Linked DNA regions of Homo sapiens. The protein of the gene in region 1 interacts with the protein of each later gene in a biochemical or structural test. Each region holds a gene or a part of one and is shown on either strand. Other genes may lie near its edges.

Evidence for each region.
Region 2: the proteins of RELB (region 1) and EHMT2 form a complex in vitro, tested with the Homo sapiens proteins (one study listed by BioGRID).

Annotation. Positions count from the first base shown.
Region 1 is NC_000019.10:45,032,249-45,035,676, forward strand, and holds part of RELB (transcription factor RelB), read left to right. Parts: intron 1-285; coding exon 286-501; intron 502-1,995; coding exon 1,996-2,064; intron 2,065-2,202; coding exon 2,203-2,280; intron 2,281-3,428.
Region 2 is NC_000006.12:31,880,567-31,884,380, reverse strand, and holds part of EHMT2 (histone-lysine N-methyltransferase EHMT2), read left to right. Parts: intron 1-176; exon of another isoform or gene 177-430; coding exon 431-575; exon of another isoform or gene 576-941; coding exon 942-1,019; exon of another isoform or gene 1,020-1,371; coding exon 1,372-1,487; exon of another isoform or gene 1,488-1,595; coding exon 1,596-1,682; exon of another isoform or gene 1,683-1,708; intron 1,709-2,820; exon of another isoform or gene 2,821-2,985; intron 2,986-3,259; exon of another isoform or gene 3,260-3,288; coding exon 3,289-3,367; intron 3,368-3,532; coding exon 3,533-3,708; exon of another isoform or gene 3,709-3,814. UniProt on the Homo sapiens protein: Histone methyltransferase that specifically mono- and dimethylates 'Lys-9' of histone H3 (H3K9me1 and H3K9me2, respectively) in euchromatin.

The DNA.
Region 1 (3,428 bases):
AAAAAAAAACCAAAAATAAAATTAGCCGGGCGTGGTGGCATATGCCTGTAATCCCAGCTATTCCGGAGGCTGAGGCAGGAGAATTGCTTGAACCCGGGAGGCAGAGGTTGCAGTGAGCTGAGATCGCGCCATTGCACTCCAGCCTGGGCAACAGAGCAAGACTCTCAAAAAAAAAAAATTTTAAAAAGGGGGAATATTAGTCTTGATTTTAGGGGAGGCTGGGCAAGTTGGGAGCACAGTGGTCCAGATGTCCTGGCTTAGCTGATGTCCCCCGTTTCCTGCCAGAGGACATATCAGTGGTGTTCAGCAGGGCCTCCTGGGAAGGTCGGGCTGACTTCTCCCAGGCCGACGTGCACCGCCAGATTGCCATTGTGTTCAAGACGCCGCCCTACGAGGACCTGGAGATTGTCGAGCCCGTGACAGTCAACGTCTTCCTGCAGCGGCTCACCGATGGGGTCTGCAGCGAGCCATTGCCTTTCACGTACCTGCCTCGCGACCATGGTAACTACAGCAACCCAGGGTGACCCACCACCTCGGAGACTAGGTCTTTGGCCTTGGGGAGACCCCAGTGGGGATGGGAAAGAGGCAGAACTAGAATGCAGGCTCAGAGCTACAAAGACAGTGTTCAGATCCTGGCTCTGCTGCTTACTGGTTGTGTGACCTTGGCCTCTCTGAGCCTCATTCTTCTGTGCAAAATGGAAATAATAGTAGCTGTCCTGTGACATTTGGAGAGTATTTAATCTTTCCTCCCCTCAGCATCCTGCACATGCCCGGGCCTGTGCTCGGTATTGCTAGAGACACAGCAGTGACCAGCACGGCCCCTAGCTGTGTCCTCATGAGGCTTATAGTCCTGAGGATAGGGGACAGCCTGTCCCTACAGAGTGATGACCAGAGTGGGCAGGACTGGAATGAAGTGCTCAAGGGCTCACATTGCCCAGAGGGGGTACCTGACCCAGCTGTAGGTGTCAGGGAATGCTTCTTGGAGGAGGGGACAGCTGAGCTGAGGACAGGAGGATGACTAAGCAGGGAAGTTTTCTAGGGAAATAGTGAGAGTGGAGGAAGAGTGCTTTAAACAGCTGGAACAGCAGGTGCAAAGGTCCTGAGGCCGGATTGTGCCTGGGGTGCTCCAGGAACAACAAAGAGGCCAGTGTGTAGGCCGGGCGCAGTGGCTCATGCCTGTAATCACAGCACTGTGGGAGGCTGAGGCAGGCGGATCACCTGAGGTTAGGAGTTCGAGACCAGCCTGAACAACATGGCGAAACCCCGTCTCTACTAAAAATACAAAAATTAGCCGGGCGTGGTGGTGGGCGCCTATAGTCCCAGCTACTCGGGAGGCTGAGGCAGGAGAATTGCTTGAACCCGGGAGGCAGAGGTTGCAGTGAGCCAAGATTGTGCCATTGCACTCCAGCCTGGGCAACAGAGCAAGACTCACTACAGGCACCCGCCACCATGCCCGGCTAATTTTAGTATTTTTAGTAGAGACCGGGTTTCGCCGTGTTGGTCAGGCTGGTCTCGGACTCCTGACCTCAGGTGATCCGCCCACTTCAGCCTCCCAAAGTGCTGGGATTGCAGGAGTGAGCCACCACGCCCAGCCAAGACTCCATCTTTAAAAAAAAAAAAAATAGGCCTGGCACAGCAGCTCACACCTGTAATCCCAACACTTCGGGAGGCCAAGGCAGGCAGATCACTTGAGGTCAGGAGTTCAAGACCAGACTGGCCAACATATAGTGAAATCCCATCTCTACTAAAAAAATACAAAAATTAGCTGGGCGTGGTGGCGCACACCTGTAATCCCTCCTACTTGGGAAGCTGAGGCAGGAGAATCACTTGAACCTGGCAGGCAGAGGTTGCAGTGAGCCAAGACCGTGCCACTGCACTCCAGCCTGGTCAACAGAGCAAGACTGTCTCTAAAAATAAATAAATAAATAAATAAATAAAGGAATTAATTATTATTGATGAATTACTTCTTGTGTGTCCCTGGTATCTCCTTAACAGACAGCTACGGCGTGGACAAGAAGCGGAAACGGGGGATGCCCGACGTCCTTGGGGAGCTGAACAGCTCTGGTGTGTGCCCTCTGCCCCTTTCCACCCCCATCCCCAGGTTCTGGGGAGGGGACAGCTGACCCCACTGCCCTGTCCCACCCCAGGCTGGGGAGGAAGGGCTGTCGGGGAACAGGGGTCCTCATCTCTGCCTTCCCTCAGACCCCCATGGCATCGAGAGCAAACGGCGGAAGAAAAAGCCGGCCATCCTGGACCACTTCCTGCCCAACCACGGCTCAGGTGGGTCCCAGCTACACATAAGCCCCTGTCCCCTGGGTGGGCAGAGGGTAAGTGGCAGCCCTGCTTTTCTGGCCTCTTCACGCCCTCCAAGAGCAGCCACAAGGCGAGTCACTCAGCACTTAGCCAGCAACATAGAGTAGAAAGAATGAGGGCTTTGGAGACAGAATGGAAGTTCTGATCTCTTCTGGGCCATTTCCTTGCTATGTGAACTTCATTAAGTTGTTCTACCTCTCAGAGCCTCAGGGACTCCTTTGAAAAGGCCCAGTACATACTTAGCTCAGTGGTGTTTTAAAATTTGATCTATTTCTTCTTTCTTTTTTTTTTTTTTTGGAGATGGAGTCTCGCTCTGTCGCCCAGACTGCAGTGCAGTGGCATGATCTCAGCTCACTGCAACTTCTGCCTCCTGAGTTCAAGCGATTCTCCTGCTTCAGGCTCCCAAGTAGCTGGGACTAAAGGCATACACCACCACACCTGGCTAATTTTTGTATTTTTTAGTAGAGACGGTGTTTTACCACATTGGCCAGGCTGGTCCTGAACTCCTGACCTCAGGTGATCTGCTTGCCTCAGCCTCCCAAAGTGCTGGGATTACAGGCATGAGCCACTGCATCCCACCTATGATCACATTTAACTGCATTTACAGCAAAACCCAAAATAACAGGGGCTTCAACAGGATAGAACGTTATTTCTTGTCTCACATACATAGTCTGTAGGGACTGAAAGTGGCTCATGCCTGTAATCTCAGCACTTTGGGAGGCTGAGGCAGGTGGACTGCTTCAGTCCAGGAGTTTGAGACCAGCCTGGCCAACGTGGTAAAACCCTGTTTCTACTAAAAATACAAAAATTAGCCGAGTGTGGTGGTGCACACCTGTAGTCCCAGCTACTTGGAGGCTGAGGCAGACAAATCACTTGAACCCAGGAGGTGAAGGTTGCAGTGAGCCAAGATTGCACCACTGCACTTTAGCCTGAGCAACAGAATGAGACCCTTCTCAAAACAACAACAACAACAACAACAAAACAGGCCTGGCACTGTGGCTTACGCCTGTAATCCCAGCACTTTGGGAGGCCAAGGCAGGTAGATCACGAGGTGAAGAGAGAGAGACCATCCTGGCCAACATGGTGAAACTCCATCTCTACTAAAAACACAAAAA
Region 2 (3,814 bases), on another chromosome or scaffold:
GCCCCTCTCTGCACCCAAGACCACCTCCTCCCCACCCATACCCTCCCCAGGCTCCATTGCATCCTCACAACATTCCCCAACCCCTCCCCATGCACCACTGAATCCCCAGAACCACCCACAGGCCCCCTCCCCACTAGGGTTGCCAGATACAGCAAATAAAAATAGAAGACACCCAGTTAAACTGGAATTTCAGATGCACAGATGCATACTTTTTTAGTGTGAGAATGTCCTGTGTAATTTTTGGGACATACTAAAAAGCTATTTCTTGTTTATCTAAAATTCTATGTTAACTCGCTGTCCTGCATCTTACCTGGCAACCTTACTCCCCTGCCCCCAGCCCCAGGAACCTCCCCAACTCTCTTCCTTATACCTGGAGTAGCTCCTCACCCCCTTTTCCAGCTTCCCAGCCCCTTCTTCCCGTCTTCTGCAGGGACGTGGCTCGGGGCTATGAGAACGTGCCCATTCCCTGTGTCAACGGTGTGGATGGGGAGCCCTGCCCTGAGGATTACAAGTACATCTCAGAGAACTGCGAGACGTCCACCATGAACATCGATCGCAACATCACCCACCTGCAGGTGAGTAGGGGGCCCGGGGCCTCCCCAAAAGGACACCGAGAGCTGCCAAGTACAGTTGGACAAGCTTCAAACCAGCAAAGGCACCTGGCCAAGGAAGGGTTGGCTGAAAGGGAGCCCTGGTGTGGGGTCGCATCCCCACCAGGGGAGGGATCCTTTTCCTAGGTCACAGCAAGGTATCATATGAGCTCCCAGTAGCCCTGGGGACACCACCATACTGATTACCCGTCACCCTAGGACCATCACCACCCACTGTTGTAACACATGGACCCCAAAGAAAGGACAGTGGTTAGGGGGTCAGGGGGCATCAAGAGTAGAGGGGCCCAGACCGATCATGGGGTTGAGCTGACCTCTGCCTCCTCGCCCCAGCACTGCACGTGTGTGGACGACTGCTCTAGCTCCAACTGCCTGTGCGGCCAGCTCAGCATCCGGTGCTGGTATGACAAGGTGCGTGCCCCTTGCCTTGGCCACAGACACCCGGCCCCTCCTTCAGAGGAGCCAGCCTCCAATAAACCAGCTCCCTGGGACCATGTCCCTCACCTCCTACCCTGTGGGGGAAGTGACTGAGAGGACTGGGCAAGGCCTGGGAATCCTGGGATGTGGCTGGGACAGCGATGGGCGTGTGCCCAGGTCTATGCAAACCAGGGATGATGCTCCTGCATTTCGTGCTCTCGGATCTCAGAGCCTGTGTGACCTCCCCAACCCCAACTTCCCTGTCTCTGTAGAGTCTTGGGGTTCCTGGGTGGGCAGCTGAGGTGGGCCCCACAGAGAAACCACTATCCTCCCCTCCGCACCCTAGGATGGGCGATTGCTCCAGGAATTTAACAAGATTGAGCCTCCGCTGATTTTCGAGTGTAACCAGGCGTGCTCATGCTGGAGAAACTGCAAGAACCGGGTCGTACAGAGTGGCATCAAGTGAGGCCCTGCTCCACAGCCCACCCTCTCCCCACCTCACCCTTTCCTCCCTGCCCCTGGGGCTTTTCCAGGGCCTCCACCCAACAGCGCCATCTCTCCTACCCCCAGGGTGCGGCTACAGCTCTACCGAACAGCCAAGATGGGCTGGGGGGTCCGCGCCCTGCAGACCATCCCACAGGGGACCTTCATCTGCGAGTAAGTCACCGGGAGCACCTTAACACCTGGTGGGAAGGGGATACATGGCCACTGCTGACTGCCAGGCCTCCCTCTCAGCCATCTGCCCTGATGAGTCACATGTCTCCATCTGGCCACTCTCCAGCCAGCCTCCTCTGACCCCTATTCCTGCAGCTGAGCAGCCAGCCGCCTCTGACCCCCATCCCCCCAGCTGAGAATGGCACCTGCCTCCACTCTGCCCAGACCACAGAGCTTGTCTTCCCTCCCCTCCACCTCCACCCTCTACCTTCCCCTCCACCCCCTCCTCGCCCTTCCTAGCTGGAGAAAGTGCCAGTTTGGGAGACAAACAGACTTGGGTTTGAGCCCCTCTCTGCTTCTGGATGTTCTTGGCCAAGTTACTTAACCTCTTTGAGCCTTATTTTTCTTGTCTGTAGAGTGGAGGTGATAACAGCTACCTATCTGTCCACCTCCTCAGGGGCCTGTCCCTCTCCATCAGTTCTTTCTCTGCCCAGCATCTGTAATCTCCCCCTTTCTCTTGGCTGCCATCCCACAACCCTCAATCTTACTTTAGTCTCCTTTGGCTCTTTTTTTTTTTTTTTTTTAATTTATTTTTTGAGACGGAGTTTCACTCTTGTTGCCCAAGCTGGAGTGCAATGGCACAATCTTGGCTCACTGCAGTCTCCACCTCCCAGGTTCAAGCGATTCTCCTGCCTCAGCCTCCCAAGTAGCTGGGATTACAGGTGCGCACCACCACACCCGGCTAATTTTTTGTATTTTTAGTAGAAACGGAGTTTCACCATGTTAGCCAGGCTGGTCTCCAACTCCTGACCTCAGATGATCCGCCCACCTCGGCCTCCCAAAGTGCTGGGATTACAGGCGTGAGCCACCGTGCCTGACCATTCTTTGGCCTTTAAAAAAGATAGTCCTCTAACCATACTTGCCTGTTCAACAGACCATCCAGTTTCTTTCCATCATGTCATCTCTCAACTTCTCTGGCAAGCAGCCCCTTCCTGCTGGGCCTCAGTTTCCCCACCATCCACTCACTGCCTGTCCCTGCCAAAATCGGCCTTTGCCCTTCCCACTCTGCTGAAGCTGTCTCTTGACAGTCACTTCCCACCCACGTCCTCTCCGTGTGTCTGAATCTCCCATGTCTGCTCACCCTCCTTAGATAGCTGGCTCCTCTCCTCCCTCTGGTGTCCAGATATGTGTGGGTGCTCTTGCCCCGAATCATGCCTTGAGTTCCTTGCCACTCCTGTACCTCTGGCTCTTCCTGCAGTCCTGGCCCCTCTCCTGTTCCATATCGCCCATTCCTGCCGGGTGGCTCCTGGAACACAAACCTCTCTGTGTCCAAACCCGAACTTCCCCACCCAGGCCAACTGCCCCTACACATTAATCCCCTTAACCACAGAGCTTGTTGTCTGTCTCTGTGCTGACTGAAGGCTTCCTCTGTCAAGGCTGGAATGCTGCCCTTTCACTTGCCCACCACTGCTGCTCCAGGCCTTCCCTTCCCCACACCTGCCAGCCCTGCCCATTCCAGATTCCACAGGCTTGTGAAGAGAGATGGGGCCTGGAGCCACCTCCTAATAGCCCACACTCACCTTCAGAACCATGGATTCCTGTCCCACAGGTATGTCGGGGAGCTGATCTCTGATGCTGAGGCTGATGTGAGAGAGGATGATTCTTACCTCTTCGACTTAGACAACAAGGTGAGCAGGAGACCCTCCTTACCCTGCTGCTCCCCAGGGCTGGCTTTCAGGAGCCTCTGGGAAGTCAGCAAATGGAAACCTGGGGAGGAGGGACTGGGGAGTCAGTGGGTGGGGAGGGCAAGCAGGGTCGGGGGAGATGTGAAGAGTGCCATCCCCCTGCCCCAGGATGGAGAGGTGTACTGCATAGATGCCCGTTACTATGGCAACATCAGCCGCTTCATCAACCACCTGTGTGACCCCAACATCATTCCCGTCCGGGTCTTCATGCTGCACCAAGACCTGCGATTTCCACGCATCGCCTTCTTCAGTTCCCGAGACATCCGGACTGGGGAGGAGCTAGGGTGAGACTCTAGGGGTCTCTAGGGGCTCTGCCAGGGGGTGGGAGATGCAGCAAACCTGGGACCTGAAGGCTGGCATGTACCTGGTGTCCAGGCATGGAGTAGTGCA